Regions from separate parts of the Homo sapiens genome. Here region 2 is linked to region 1. Evidence: fine-mapped expression QTL. Tissue or cell type: cerebellar hemisphere. Region 1 holds a variant in brackets; the other region holds the start of a gene. All regions are shown on one strand. Distances are between the middles of the regions.

The links. PIP is the estimated chance that this variant, and not a neighbour inherited with it, causes the effect.
Region 2: TMEM18 starts here. The variant in region 1 is fine-mapped to the expression of TMEM18 in cerebellar hemisphere (GTEx, PIP 0.98).

Annotation. Positions count from the first base shown.
Region 1 is chr2:1,415,679-1,423,678 of GRCh38, reverse strand. TPO (thyroid peroxidase) reads right to left here. Exons shown (of 17, transcript NM_001206744.2): 3 at 550-634. Among named protein-coding and RNA genes, the nearest start is that of TPO, 6.2 kb to the right of the region's middle. RefSeq lists an enhancer at 5,180-6,379. The variant C/G (reference allele first, on the strand shown) is at 3,634.
Region 2 is chr2:673,780-681,922 of GRCh38, reverse strand. It overlaps TMEM18 (transmembrane protein 18), which reads left to right and starts at 4,517. Exons shown (of 5, transcript NM_152834.4): 1 at 4,517-4,634; 2 at 6,293-6,413. The coding sequence starts at 4,578. TMEM18-DT (TMEM18 divergent transcript) reads right to left here and starts at 4,551. Exons shown (of 3, transcript NR_183417.1): 1 at 4,450-4,551; 2 at 1,772-1,879; 3 at 1-667. RefSeq lists enhancers at 4,375-4,444, 4,475-4,574, 4,477-5,242, 7,029-7,528, 7,529-8,030 and a silencer at 4,735-4,984.

The DNA of each region.
Region 1 (8,000 bases):
TTGGGAGGGCAAACTGCTTTACAGGTTTTTTGTTTTTTGTTTTTCTTTTCTTTTTCTAGACAGGTAATATGAGACCACAATATTCTTAATAGTGGTGTCTGTTATATAATTACAAATGCTAATTATTTCAAAAATGGGGGAGAGCCCCATTTAATTCTTTATTCTATGCCACAGGTAATGTTACAGTTATATCACAACACCAAAGATCTGGGATCTAGGTCTCTCTTTTCCTCCTTAATCTGTCCTAATCCTGGAGAAGAGAGGCTGGTTTTGCTATCAGGACGTCAGCCTCTACTGTCTTTTAACCAGGGTATACGTAATTGCTAATTGCATCAGGGTGCTCCTCCTTTGTGTCTTGCTTAAGAAAGGATTGGAGATTAAATACCAGTTCTGTCTGCTGCTTGCACATGACACTGGGGAAGTAAATTAACAATGGCAAGCTTCAGGTTTTCATCTGCAATTGCGAAAATCAGGCCACACGTGTGTGGATGTCAGGGAGGATGCGCCTGTCGGTGGCATTTGGGGCGGCGGCCCCTCCGCAAGGCTCACCTCTGCATCGTGGCGTACATGGCGGTGTCCACCAGGCGCTTGCTTTCCTCCAAGACGCTAGAGACACGAGACTCCTCAGGCTTTCCTACGGAACAGAATGTCACACAGTCAAAGCGCAATGACAGTTCAGCGATTCACTGACAGTGTTGCTTTGTTCCTCAAGCCCATCTTGCTGCGGTGATGCCCACGTGGCTTCCGGGACAGGCAGGCAGCCAGGTCCCGGGGTCGCTTCCCTCCACAGGCCTTCACTTCCCCGCTACAGAGGGGCGTCCACCCCCACTGCACGGAGCTGCCTGGAGGATGGGATCAGAGCTACTCACCTTAATTTCGCACTTGCCCAAACCACTTCAAATGATTCCGAATAACTTTTGTTCTGAACATTCATCACTGGTTACCTGAGCCAGTGGTAAAGTTGATAAGATTTGCCTATCTTGTGTATTTAATAAAAGATAAAATAATTCCACTATACCAGTAGTTTCCAATGAAAGCACTCCTGTGTTATTTGTTTTAGCACCTGGAATGTGTAAGAGGTTAAGATCCCATTTCTGGGTATCACCGTGAAGTTCCGGACGCGGTAACAGGAAGACGGCAAGTGTTTCCGGCCATGTTCACACGTCAGTCCTGTTACTAAATTCACCTGCGTAGCATCAATACTTCACCAAAGGAATGAATTGGCTCCTAAAAGCAAATAGAAGTCCCTGAGGGGCACACCAGGCTCTCGCTCTCCCCATGGCCCAGCGCGGCGCCTGCACGAGGTCGGTCCAGCGCGGCGCCTGCACGAGGTCGGTCCAGGAGAGGCGCCTGCACGAGGTCTGTCCAGGAGAGGCGCCTGCGGGGTCTTCAAGGCTTCAGTCCCACGCGCCTTCCATGCTCGTCCCCACCCAAGGAGCACACAAATTCCCCAGCATCATTTCTTCCTGCTCACTCTGCCCTGCTCCGTCTGTTCCATTGGCCACCCAGTTTCTTACAGTGTGATACAGCAAAGTTAAGAAAACCTCCGTGCTGGATCTCTCTTGGGTTCTGGGATGAGTAACCAGTGGTTAAGCACTTGGGGCAGAGGGTGACCCCTCAGGGTTGGGCAGAGAGCAATGAACAGAGCCCCCCGGTGTGGGGCTCCCTGGGGCAAGGGCAGGAGGGAGGGAGGAACACCTAGCACGGGCTCACAGCTCGCCGGGGACCCCCAGCACAGCCGTCAGAGCTGCAGGCTCTGGGTGTGGAATCTGAAGAGGGGACCTGGCTTTACGCCAATGTGTGCGTGCTGGGGACAGTGCAATGTGGGACGATGCCACCAAGAGTGAGTAGGAGCCGAGAGGGGAGGGGCGGCCTGGGCGTCGCAGGATCGGTGGCAGGTGTGGACCTCAAGGACCAGCATTCCGGGCTTTATGGAGATTTCTTTCAGCTCTCAAGAATCAGGGAACCTCCTGTTCCCACAAAAGCTTGAGATATAAGACACCTGGAATTTTCCTTTATTTTCCTCTTATTTCCTTCTAAACCCACTGCAACTGCCCAGGCAACTCAACTCACATTTTGTATTCTGTGGTCAGTCACGACCGCTTATTTGCCAAATGCAGTAACCAGCCCCGCCCCCCACCTCCCCAGGACTCTGGTGCTTTTGGGATGTTGCCGGCATTCTTAAGTGGCAGAGGGGTGACGGCCATGGGCTCTGGAGTGAGACAAATCAATCTCCGAGTGACGCGGCAGCTCACTTCACCTGGCGCGGTTTTCTCTCCTAGCTGCAGAGTTACATCTTAGGATGGTTTTAGAGAGAAGTTTGCACAGCTCTTGGCCGAGGGCCTCGCAAGTGTGCTCTGAAGAGAGAAGTTTGCACGGCTCTGGGCTGAGGGCCTGGCAAGTGCACAGAGTTACGTCTTAGGATGGTTTTACAGAGAGGTTTGCACGGCTTTTGGTCCAGGGCCTGGCAAGCGTTCAGTGCTCCCGGCCGTCGTGCCTTTTGCTTTCAGTCTCTGGCCACTCTCTCTCTCAGCCTCGGTCACTGTGGCTCTCTTCTCTCCATGGTCTCCCTCCTGTGAGTGTCACCTCGGGTGCATTTCTGGCTCCTCTGATCTTTGCCCTCTCCTCTCACCCTCCTTTGGTCCTCTCCCAAACGCCCGTTTTCCACTTGAACTTCTCTCCTGAGTCACGCCATCCTCCTCTGTTCCCTGTTGAGGGGTGTTAACAGCCTGAAATAACCACCCTACCAGCTCAAGTCCCCAAGCAAGAAGCCCAGCCGTGGCTTTCCTTGCCTTTCACTCACCATGTGGTGTGAATTTCCCCATAATGTCTCTGGGAGAACGTTCTGCTCCTGCCTGGCCGTTGTCAGTCTCACTTTCTACTGCCTTAGTAGAAGGAGCTCTTGACTGGCTCCTGCACTGATCTCCCCACCATCCTTCTGTCCCTCCTGCTGTCACCCAAGTGACCTTTCTAAACCAAGGCCTGCTTGTGCCTGTGCCTTTGATGAAAGCATCTGAAGGCTCCTGATGCCCACTGAATTGCGTGCAGGTCTTCCTCAGAATCCAGGACGTCCACCACCTGCCCAAGACCAATCTCCATGTTGCAGAGCTGTGGAGGTAACGCACAATTTATCCTTCATCTCATGAAATTGTCAATCTCAAGCTCCCAGCTCTTCCTTTATGAAATTTTGATCCTGCTGATCTTTAGGTACCAGAAAAAAAATTAGCTCTGTCACTCACACCACCTGTGTATATGCATCCTATCACTGAGAGTCTCTTCAGGGCTCTGCAAAGTTCTGCGCTATTCACGACCAAGACCAAAGGCTGGTTTTCAGCAGGCACTTGACAATTATTTAAGAACCAACTGATTAAATATAAAGAAACATGCTTATCCTTCTCTACTATGCTTGGAAACGGCAGTTACTAGAGAGATCATTCCTTGTTATTGACCAATATTAATATATTGTTATTCAAGTTTAACTGATCATATGTTGCTTAGTCTCTAGTTTCTTTTCTTATTGTAAAATATTTTACAGAATTAAAACATTCTTATAGGCTTGCAGATTATTAGTCTTTTAAGTTTCATAAAATAAATCCATTTCTGTATTGAAAACTTCCTCCCAGAGACACATAA[C/G]TCTCATCAGATAGTCTCAAGTCTCTACTGGAACCGGTGGTGTTTTCATTGTTTAGGTTAACTACTTCTTGGCTGAATAGAGATGACTGACATCCATCTGTAGGGGAAGAAGAAACCTTTTCTCTCCCTGCATCTTAGATTAATTTTCTGGGGCATTGAAATTAGACTGACAAAAGGCAGAGTCACAGGAGGAAAACTCACAGGGGTTATTAGCCTGGACTCCTGCTTCCACGAGGGAGCCCCCTGAGCGCCCCAAGATGGAAACTCGAATGGATCGTTAGAACTCTGCTGCACAGCCCCTCAGCAAAAGAACAATCATTTTCCAAGAAGCTGCAAGACCAAAGCAAAGGACTTTGAGTTCCCAGGAAACACGTTTTGAGGAGGCCTCTCTGGGGCAACTACAGGAAGGGAGGCCGGGGCTGCAGAGGTTTGCCACACAAATGCCTCTGGGGCTGGTTCCAGGCTGTTGAGGGCCTGGGGTCCCTGGTGATGAATTTCTGTCCTTTCTGTTGGAGAGGGAAATGGTCACTTTTGCGGATTTATGTTCTACTTTTAGGCAATAGAGGCAGGGCAGATGGCTTTTCCTTTATCTGCTGCTTCTCAGTTTCCATCAGCTCACATTAGCTCTCCTGCCACCAGGGAGCTGGGGTGGCCAGCTCTGAGCCCCTTGCTATCGTTAGCTCTGCAGCGCCCTTCCTTCCTCAGTTCCCAGCAATCCCAGGGAAGAGGCGTCTGATGCAAGGACCATAGACTTAGGGAGTTTGAACCCGAAGTTTTTTTTCAGAACTGAACACTGAGTTCTAGGGAGTCACGGGACTTAATTACTTGCTCTGGAGAAGCCGCCCGCTGCTCTCTGCCTGCGCCTTCTCAAGATTGCTCCTGCTCTGAGGGGCGCATGGCACGGTTCCCCCAAATTCTCCTTTATGCATATTCATATTGTTCATAAAAGAGGTGGAATTCAGGGACACATTAGGCAAGAACATACCACATTTCAGAAAGAAGAAGGAAGTTGCCTTGTTCCAAAGGCTGTTTATGTTAAATATATATATGAAAGCCAAAATCTTTCTTCTCCAAAACCATAAGCCCCCAGGGCCAGAGCTTTGCTCCTAATTCTAAGCGCTTGATTCCTGTTTAGAGTTGTGTGTTGATTCTTACTTTAATCCTTGCTGTTTGTTGAAATTTAATGAACTGGAATAAGGTTTGCCAACTTTCCTTTTAAAACAAATTCACTCATTAGGCTAGCTTCCCAAATTTTCCCAGGCTGCAGGCAGCGCCTCTGCTTCTTCTTGTTCATTTGCATCTTATTTTCTTTTAACAGCTATAACTTGTGGAACATTTGCCATAAAGATAATTGCACATAAATCTTGATGTTGCACAAATGCTGGAATGCCTCTCAGCCTGTGTGGTGATGAATACACAGGGTTCTGGTGAAGAACATTCTGTTCAGGGCGTTAGAGGAGGGATTGATAGCAAACTTCTCTTAGACAACAATGGTCAAGCATAGATTTTTTTTCCATTTTCAAAGACTCTTATTACAGAATTTTCAGGTGCTGAAGTTTATTTCTCTTTGTGCTTTGACCCTAGGGGATCCTGCTCTGGAACAAGAGTCTCTCCTGCACCCACCCAGTCTGAGCACCAGCCAAGATCTTTCCCTTCTTATTCTCACCTTCCTACAGTTTGCAGGCAAGTTGATACAACCTAAACTCTATCCAGGACTGATGCTTTTCTTTTTTTCTCTCTCTCTCTTTTTTTTTTTTTTTTGAGATGGATTCTCACTCTGTCACCTAGACTGGAGTGCAGTGGTGTGATCTCGACTCTGCAACCTCCACCTCCTGGGTTCAACTGATTCTCGTGCCTCAGCCTCCCGAGTAGCTGGGATGACAGGTGGGCACCACCACGCCCAGCTAATTTTTTTTTGTATTTTTAGTAGAGATGGGGTTTTGCCATGTTGGTCAGGCTGGTCTTGAACTCCTAGCCTCAAGTGATCTTCCCGCCTCGGCCTCCCAAAGTGTTGGGATTGCAGATGTGAGTCATGGCACTGGCCTGATACTGTGTTGGGATTGCAGATGTGAGTCACGGCACTGGCCTAATACTGTGTTGGGATTGCAGATGTGAGTCACGGCACTGGCCTGATGATACTGTGTTGGGATTGCAGATGTGAGTCACGGCACTGGCCTGATACTGTGTTGGGATTGCAGATGTGAGTCACGGCACTGGCCTGATACTGTGTTGGGATTGCAGATGTGAGTCACGGCACTGGCCTGATGATACTGTGTTGGGATTGCAGATGTGAGTCACGGCACTGGCCTGATACTGTGTTGGGATTGCAGATGTGAGTCACGGCACTGGCCTGATGATACTGTGTTGGGATTGCAGATGTGAGTCACGGCACTGGCCTGATACTGTGTTGGGATTGCAGATGTGAGTCACGGCACTGGCCTGATACTGTGTTGGGATTGCAGATGTGAGTCACGGCACTGGCCTGATGATACTGTGTTGGGATTGCAGATGTGAGTCACGGCACTGGCCTGATACTGTGTTGGGATTGCAGATGTGAGTCACGGCACTGGCCTGATACTGTGTTGGGACTGCAGATGTGAGTCACGGCACTGGCCTGATGATACTGTGTTGGGATTGCAGATGTGAGTCACGGCACTGGCCTGATACTGTGTTGGGATTGCAGATGTGAGTCACGGCACTGGCCTGATACTGTGTTGGGATTGCAGATGTGAGTCACGGCACTGGCCTGATGATACTGTGTTGGGATTGCAGATGTGAGTCACGGCACTGGCCTGATACTGTGTTGGGATTGCAGATGTGAGTCACGGCACTGGCCTGATGATACTGTGTTGGGATTGCAGATGTGAGTCACGGCACTGGCCTGATACTTTTCGCTGAGTACTTATCATCGAGCTTCAAGTATGAGGATGTGTGTTGGTTCTCTGTAAAGACCTGGGACGTGAGACTGTGAGACTGAGCGGCCACAGCCTTGCTGCTTCTGAGACTTCCAGACCTCTACGTTTTGATCTATAAAATGGGTGCCTGACACATAAGGGTGAGCCACCCACCAAGCAGGACCCCCCGGAGCACCATGTGCTTACGGTGACCGTGTGTGGTCCAGGGGGAGCCTGGATCCTCTTGGCCCTGCCGCTGCCTGCTCTTTGGCTTGTCCTGCACAGAGGCTGGGGAGCAGGCCAAGGTTTTTGCTTCACATGTCTGTGAGCACAGGTGACATAAACCCACACACAGTCATTGGGCATCATTTTCCAAACAGATTTAAAGCTGCAAAACAACTATTAAAGGCTGTAAAATAGAAATACTGTGAGACACATAATATTTTTTCAGTAACTCATTCACATTTCAAGCAAACAATAAGTCAGCTTTGAAATATTGGAGCAGGCAGAAGCATGTGCCCAGCACGCGGGGCAGTTGTCAGCTGCTGTCCTGTGCACTCGTGATGTGTCAACCAAAAGTTTAAGCAAAACGAAAAGGTCAAATCTCCCAGATATGGAAAAATAATTTTTAAAAACTGTTTTAGCAAAAGCTGTGGCTACTGCATTCCTGATGGCTTTTTAAATGTGATTTTTAAAATTAAAAAACATGTTACAAAGTTTTAAATATTTTGTTGAATAGCTCTCATGTATCACAACTTGCTCAGAACTAGCTCTTGACTTCTAACATGTTTTACTCTGGTTTTATACAACCAGGTCCTACTAAATATGAAATAAAATAACAAAGTAATTAATTTACAAACCATTGGCTGAACATCTAGCATGTTCCAGGTGATAGAGTGACTGATTTATTCTGGGAAGATGCAAAATCACTTTTTCCTGAGGTTCTTTATATTGTGACTCCATTTTTATTTTTTGTTTTTTGGTGATTGCCGAGGTACTGCATTCACCGCTTTAAATGAAGTATCTCATTCTTGCTCACAAATAATGACTGCGATGAGTAATTTTCCAGTGTTCTCCATTTGCAGGGGAGGGACAGGAATTAGGGGTGAGTAGCCCATCCTTGGGGCATGGATGGAAGCTGGCAGGGAGAGGCCCCACGGCTTCCCTGATCTCAGAGCGGGCAGTGACCAGGAAGTCCTGGGGGCTGTGGAGGGAGAGTTTTTTTAAGGAGCCTACGAGTCTGTTATGGACTTCACTGCCACTCCTAATATGGTTGTGAAGTCCTGAGATGCAGAAAAATTGGGGTAAAATGTGGCCCCCAGCAGGAGGCTGGGCTGGGTGTGGCTGGGAACAGCGAGGACTCCAGATTCTGTGACCCTGAACGACAGACAAGGCCTCCAGTCCTGGGAAAGGCTGGTGAGGGCAGAGGTGCCAGTGCTGTGCCATGGCCCCAAGACTGTGTCCAGAGACCCA
Region 2 (8,143 bases), 740 kb after region 1:
GCTTAGGGTGAGTCTGACGCCATGCCATGCGGAGTTGCCAAAACACCAACAGGAAACCCTTGGTCTTTCCCTCCTGAAGAAATTGGGAATATGCCTGCTAAAAATTGAGAAGGAAGGAGAGAATCAGAGATGGAGAACCCCAAATTCTGTGTATAACTTCCATCCAGAACTCCAGTTGACATCCGAACGCTGAATGTGTGAGGCAAACTCCACGAAACACAAGAAGGATAAAAGAACCAAATTAAGAATTCAGCTGCTGTTCAACAGGCAGTTTGCAGTCTGTCAAACCAACTTAATGGTCTCATCACACACACGCGTGCGCGTGCATGCACACACACACACACACACACACACACACACAGCTGGAAAAAATAACAGAGCCCAGACTCTCCACGACATGATATTTGCAATGCCCAACAAGTCATGCTAAATTATCCACAATTGCAGAACCGGGGAAGTGTGGCCACCGCTCTAGCAAACAGACACACTCAGAATCAGAACAATCCCCTTGCTGTGCTCAGAGGTGGAGCTTCCTGCTGTATCCCTGCTCAGTGACGGGAATCAGGGCCTGCACCCACCACCAGGATGAATCCTGCCTTGCCGCGATTTTACAGCTGCAGCGAAGGACAGTTCTGCAATCATGGGAAGTCTAATGTTCAGTCCTCATCTAATAAAGAGAAGAAAAAGAATGAGAGAGAAAAAATGAAGAAATAATGCTAAAAATTAACAATATAAATTCACAGAATCAAGAAATTTATCAAACACAAGCAACATGAATACAAAGAAAACTAATTCTAGGCACATCGTGGTCAAACTGCTGAAACCAAGATAAACAGAATATTCTGAAAACAGAAAAATGACATGTTATCTATGGGAAAATGAGGATTAGAAACATCACTGCTTTTCTACAAGAAACTATGGCAGACAGAAGGCTGTGGAATATCTCTCATGTGGTCAAAGAAAAGAAAGAAAAGCAGTATTCAACAATTCACAGAAAAAATATCCTTTAAAATGAAGACAAAACAAGAGCATTTTTCAGATGAAGTCGATTCATCCCCGACAGATCTGAACTGCATGGGATGCTTATGGCAATTCTTTAGTCTGAGAGGAAATGATACCACCTGAAAATGCTCAGAAAGGAATGAGAGCTTTGGAAATGGTAAATTAAGCATTGCTGTCAAATGCTTTATTGTAAACCGCATTGTACAAACTGACAGAGGCATCAGATTTCACATCAGGGTCAAACTGGTGCAGCCCAGAGACACAAAGGGAGGAACCAGGAACCCGCACAGAAGCTGCCCGGGGTCGTAGACCCAGCCCGTGAGGTTGGTGTCCTGCAGGATGTTGCTGAGCTTGGCAAGTTCAATGGGGATAAATGGAGAACACAGTGGTGGAGATAAGGGCACTTCTGTGGCCTGATTCGCATCCAAGACATCGAAACTGAGGGCGCCCAGAGTCCAGCTCTCAGGGATCTCAGTTATTGGCCATGATGTCTTCAGGAATGAAACCTCTGGGCTCACACCATTCTTTGGGTGTGCTACAGTGTTTAAACCTTTCCTGAGATGCACCCTGCCGTCCCCTAGGGTCCGACCCTCCTGGGCTTTCTGGCACTGTCTGAGCTGTCACCAGGCCAGGGGTCTGCACCTGGCACCCCGGCTGGCATGGGGCTATGGAGGCCAGGTCCAGGGGGTCCTGCCCATGTCAGCCTGGCTGTGGCTCTTCCTAGACAGACGCCCCTCCCAAGGCTGCCTCTGGGTCACAGGGCACAGACCTGGTCTTGGTACCTCTCCTTTCCTCCATAACTCCTCATTGCTCCCACAGCAACAGGTAACTCTCCCCTGTGGTCTCTCCATCTAAACAATCAGCTGCCTGCTGGGACCTGAGCAATGCAAAGAACAAGAAAGCTATCAAGTACTGGCTTTAATTTGTAGAAAACATTACAGCTCACAAACTTATTTTACCCATTAATAAAGCTCTTGAAAACCAATTGTATGTGGATTAAATAGCTATTTTAGAAATAAACAAAATTGGGCCAGGCGTGGTGGCTCACGCCTGTAATCCCAGCACTTTGGGAGGCCAAGGCAGGCGGATCATCTGATGTCAGGAGTTCGAGACCAGCCTGGCCAACATGGTGAAACCCCGTGTCTACTAAAAATACAAAATTAGCCTGGCATGGTGGCACACGCCGGTGATCCCAGCTACTCGGAAGGCTGAGGCAGGGAGAATCGCTTGAACCCAGGAGGCAGAGGTTGCAGTGAGCCGAGACCCTGCCACTGCACTCCAGCCTAGGCAACAAGAGCAAAACGCAAAAAAAAAAAAAAAAAAAAAAAAAAAAGGAAAGGGAAGAGAAGAGAAGGGTGGCGAGGGAAGGGGAAGGGAGGGGAGGGGCTTCATCCAGTCTTTTCTGGAAGCACAAAATTCCAGGTAAATGGAATAGAGTCCATGTCAGCATTCACATACCAACAGAGAGAGCAGGCCATGTTCTACTGGCCACATTAAAATAGCAAAGAGAAAGAGATTAATTTTATTGATATATTTTATTTGGTCCAGTATGTCCAAAATATAATTTCAACATGTAAGCAAAATAATACAATTGTTGATAATGTATTTTACATTTTGGTACAAAGTCTTTGAAAGATGGTGTATGTTTGAAATTAAAGCACATCTCAGACTGGCGACATTGCACAAGCTTCACGTCTAAATGTCCGGCAGCCTAGCGTTGTTCAGAACGGCAGGGCGGGAGGAATGTGGAAGATGAATGTCCTGGGACTGAAAGTGAAGCTGCTGAGGGCCAGAGTTTTAACAATTTTGGAAACTTGGGTGCCAGGGCGCACAATATATGAAAGATCTGGGAGGGCGGCTGAGGGGAAGATGAAGAGAAAAAATCCCAGTGACCGTAGATAGGCTGTGGTTAATATTAATAGCAAAAAGAGTTTGACCCCAAATTACAGAAGTTACAAGAAAACAGACACCACAAAAGAAAGGCAGGCACCAGACAGGACTGACGATGAAACTAACCCATGGAAATTAATAAGAGTGATGTTTCACATAGTAACGAAATATCATCAGGGAGATACACAGTAACAGGCTGAACTGAAGAGGACAGATCTATTCCCTGTAACTGAAAGGTCCTGTTGAAAATAGCTGAACAAACACAGGGGAGTGAGAATGGACACAGATGAAAACCATCACACCAGCTGGGTGCGGTGGCTCATGCCTGTAATCCCAGCACTTTGGGAGGCCCAGGCGGGTAAATCACTTGAGGTCAGGAGTTCAAAACTAGCCTGGCCAACATGGTGAAACCCCGTCTCTACTAAAAATACAAAAAAAATTAGCCAGGTGAGGTGGCGAACACCTGTAATCCCAGCTACTCGGGAGGCTGAGGCAGGAGAATAGCTTGAACCCAGGAGGCGGAGGTTGCAGTGAGCCGAGGTCCCACCATTGTGCTCCAGCCTGGGCGACAGAGCGAGACATCGTCTTAAAAAAAAAAAAAAAAAACCAGGAAAGCCAAGCCCGAGATTTCCCAAACTCAGCAACAACAGTCGTGATGTTTTGAGAGGAAGGTTGAGAAACACAAAAGAGAGGAAGATGCACTATCTACCTAACGGGATGTTCCTGGAGTTGAATACAGGAAGAATAGAGAAAAATATCAATGAAAGAAATGTTTTCCCATAAGAAGAAACCATGACCTTCTACACTGAAATGAGAGAATGCATGTTAAGTAGCATAAGCAGAAATGACCACACTGTGGAAAGATTTTAAGAAAGATCTGGGAGGGGTTAAAGCTATTAAAAAAAAAAAAAAGTCCACCACTAGAACTATTTTTAGAAACATTAAACTAGTTCAAGAGCTAACATATGCAATTAAAGTATATACACTTAATAATTCATGATGTTAAAATAACAGAATGTTTAATTTGAAAATGTCAAAGTTGGGGTATAGATGTTAAAATAAAGGGAAAAAATTCGCTGGAAGAAAATTAACTTTATATTTTTGTATCTGTCGTTGAACAACGAAGTGAAGCGTAAGAACATCTGGTAAATCTCCAAAGTGAAGACAGATAACCCTAAGCTGACCCAGACTAAGAGTGCACTGCCCTTAGGGTCGCGAGAGCAGACACCTTCCCAAGTCCTGCAGGGTCCGAGGAGTGGGCAATGTCCCCGGCTCCTGCAGGGTCTCGGGGCGGACACCGTCCTCATTGATGCTCTGACCCTTCTAGGGAGTCCCAGGTGGGACAGGGCTGGCGTGGCGGTACAGCGCCCTGAGCCTTTGAAACAAACCTCCTAAATTCCACCCGCCTCCGCCTGCTCCTCTGTTAACGAACTAAAGACGCCCTCGGCCTCCTGGCGGAGCGAGCACAAGTCCCACAGCAGCGTAGTAAGTTTTCCGTATTACAGCGACCACCAGGAAATATCGCGATATCTGGACCTAGCAATGCCATGAAATTACCGCGAGAGGAAGCAAGCGCAAGTTTCGTGAGAAGGGCAGATCTCACGAGAGAGGATTTGGCGCCCTCCTCTGTGGATTCTGGCCAGGCCGGGTTCGGCGGTTGCTGTGAGAGCGGGCTTCCCAACACCATGCCGTCCGCCTTCTCTGTCAGCTCTTTCCCCGTCAGCATCCCAGCCGTGCTCACGGTAACTCGCGGCCCGCGTAACCACCAGTTCGGGGGAGGACGGCGGAGAGGCGTAGGGTAGGCCCCACAGAGCACCCGGCCTGTGGCCAAGAAGGCCCCGGCCGTGGGCGGGGCCTTGTGGCGGAGCGCGCGCGCTGGGCAGGGTCCTGAGACCTGTGGGAGTGGCTCGGGGCCGGCGTCGGGGGCGCGCGCTGTGGGCGGGGTCCTGGGCCCTGTGGGAGGGGGCCGGGGCCGGGCGTCGGGGCGCGAGCGCTAGGCGGGGTCCTGGGCCGTTGGGCGGGGAGGGGCGGGGCCGGGCGGGGCCTTGTGGAGGAGCGTGCGCAGTGAGCTGGCTCCGGCGCTCTGTGGCCCGGGCTTGGGCTGGGCTGGCGTCCTGCACCGTGCGGGCGTGGCTGAGTTGTGTGGGCGGAGCGCGAGGGGTAGGGCTTTGTTCGTGTGGGAGGTGCACGCCGGCCAGTCCAGCGTCTTGCGGGCGGGGCTTGGGCCATGTGGGCGGATTCTGGCAGTGCGGCGGGGCGTGCGTGGTGGAGCCTGATCGTGTGGGGTGGCACGGAGGAACGCTGCCCAGTGTGGGCGGGGCGTGCGCCGTGCCGGGTTCGTCTGACAGATCCCAGGGGAGCCCACGCCCCACGTGGCCGCCAAGGGGTGACATGGGCACTCGATGGGGTCTGGGCAGAAAGCCGTGCTCCCCTCACCTCCGTGCCTCTGGTCTTCTGGTGGGTGCATTGATGGGAGTAGATGCGCTTGTGTCCTTATGTCATGGCGCGGCTCTGGAGAAGCCGCTGCGGTCCCCAGCAGAGAGTAGTGACACAGGAGTTCTGGAGGGCTGTGCCGGGCTGCAGCTTGGAGGGCAGGGCGGGGCTGCAGCTTGGAGGGCAGGGCGGGGCTGCAGCTTGGAGGGCAGGGCTTGTCTTCTGCAGGAGGGCGCTCAAGGAGGGGATGGGGAGGGTTGAGGACTGCTGGGATTGGCATCTGAGCATCAGGTGGGGACTGAGCAGCAGTGGATCTGAGCCTGGCTACTTCAGGTCCCTGAGCCAGACACTGTCCCCAGGTACAGCAGGGTCCCGGGGAGTCCAGGAGGCGGCGGAGTGCGGCACTGTCTGGAGAGTTCAGTGTATTGCAGAGAGGTTGGAGAAAATCAAGTCTTGCACGTGGCGATGGCTCAAGATTCCCTGAGGTCTTCAGTGCTGACTAAGGAGTCTGAAATGATGATTCATGTTTTACCTTTGGGGCTGAGCCAAGTGCATCTCTTTGAGCAATCGTCTTAATTTCCTTGTCGTCACCAATTATCATAACCAATTATCATCGTAAAGGATGGTAATTCCTTTAATTATACCCACCTTAAAAACATGATTCTGTTCCACAAACGAAAGGAGCACATCAGAGATGCCTTCAGTTCTGTGTGCTTGAACTTTGAATTCCATGAATTATAGTTGCACTGAGGGGAGAATCCTGTTTCCATCCTCCTGGTTCCTTCTCCCTTTCCTGTCCCCATGTTTCTCTGAGGCCTGGCAATGCTCTCTGGATACTTGGTGAGTAGCCCAGGAGGACTCAGGAGTGAGAGGCCCCTGCCTCCTGCGCTGGGAGAAGGCTGTGGGTGGGCCGTGAACCCGGCCTTGAGTGGCAGGACAGTGAGTGTCTGCTGGTGTGTTCCTACAGCAGACGGACTGGACTGAGCCCTGGCTCATGGGGCTGGCCACCTTCCACGCGCTCTGCGTGCTCCTCACCTGCTTGTCCTCCCGAAGCTACAGACTACAGATCGGGCACTTTCTGTGTCTAGGTGAGTAAAACAACACAAACTCCACAACTCAGATCACTGTGTGAAATGAAACTGTGTATGTTCTGTCTGTGTCTTCGAAATATATACATATTTTTACAAGACCTCCCAACCCTCTGTCATGTGCCTGCTCCCAGGGCACTCCCGTTTTTCACTCTTGGAAGCTATAAAGAAAACTACTTTTTGGATGTTAGAGTTGAGAGGAATCTGTTGAGTTCCTGTTGCCTACCAGGGAGGTGCTGAGCACCAGCTGCACACAGGAGAGTTGGGTTTCCGGAAGTGCTGTCTTTTACACAAGATGCGTCCTTGGTGGCAGCTGTGCTCATGCACTGCTTTGAATGGGAGGAAGATTGCAAACTGGGAAAGAAAAGTTCTGTGCATAAAATAAGGCATTGCCCAACTTGGTTTCAAGGATAAGGGCTACAGAACTTAGAGAAGTTAGGGAGTTGCACAGGATGACTGAGAAAGATTATTCAGAAAAGCTGAAATCATGGCACAGGGTGTGAAGAGTGAGTAAAATGTTAATAAGAAAAGAGAGGGAGCAGGTGACGGCCCTGGGAGGGCAGCAGCCCGACATGCAGAGACTGAGATAGATGGAAGGTGTGGATCAGAGGCAGAGAAACTGCAAGCCCTCCAGGACCTAAGCACTTCTGATGCTGAGCGTTACGAACACGTGTGGGTAGAAGAGGCGAGGAGGGCCTGGAGGCCTGGCTCAGGCTACTCTTGACTCTCAACATTGGGGAGACACTGAAGATTTTGCTTGGTAGTTAAAAATAACTAATTTCAGATAAGTTTAGTTAGCTGGCTGTGTGCAAAGCGGGAAATCTGAAGAAGAGATGATCTTAGAAAGACTGGAGAAGTGATGAGGGTTTGCATCACAGTGGGGGCCTATGCAAGTGAGGCGCTCAGAGCAAGCTCTGTATTGAGGGTGCCCTGAGGAGTGCTGGAGTGGACCAGGCAGACAGGGCTCCTTTGCCTCCCACAGCTTCCTGGGGGACACCAGCACCAGTGATTCATCACAGACCTGTGTTATCAACAGTGACAAGTGTTGCAATGGAAAAGCCAAAAACACAGTGAAACAGGAGGAGCGGCCTGATTTAAATCACACAGTCCCCTGGGAACCCAGGGGCAAAAGGTGCATAGGCAGGAGCCAGGCAGTGAGATGCTGGCAGAGGGCAGGAGCAAGTGCCCCACGCAGAGGCCCTGAGGCAGGCATCTCAAAGAAAGGTGATGGCTTCACCAGCTGAGCTCCTGGATCTGAATAGCTTTGTCAGCTGGAGAACTGCACAAAGGGTTTGATGTTTTCTAGGATAAGGGGAAGGATGACTGCTTTCACACCGGGGTAATACTAGACACTGTGCTGCCTGCCATTACATTTCCTGTGATTCATTTCTCAAACCAGCCAAGAGTTGGATTTTATTTGCCCATTTTTATAAATGAAACATGCAGAGGTTCTCTAACTCCCTCAGCTATACAGCTTATAACCAGCACCATCAAGATTCAAGATTCAGACTCTGCTCCAGGGTGCATTTCAGGAATAGCTGAGGAGGAGCACCTGGTGACACCCTCCCTGCCCGCCTTCCTCCCGTGCCTACCACCCTCCCCACCTTCCCCCTGTAACGTCAGCCCTCCACACCTTCCTCCCCGCACCCATGCCCACCACCTCCTGTGTTAGCCTACCCTTCTCACCTGCCTGGCTGTCCTGCTTCTCCTGGCCCTCCTCCTTCCCCTCC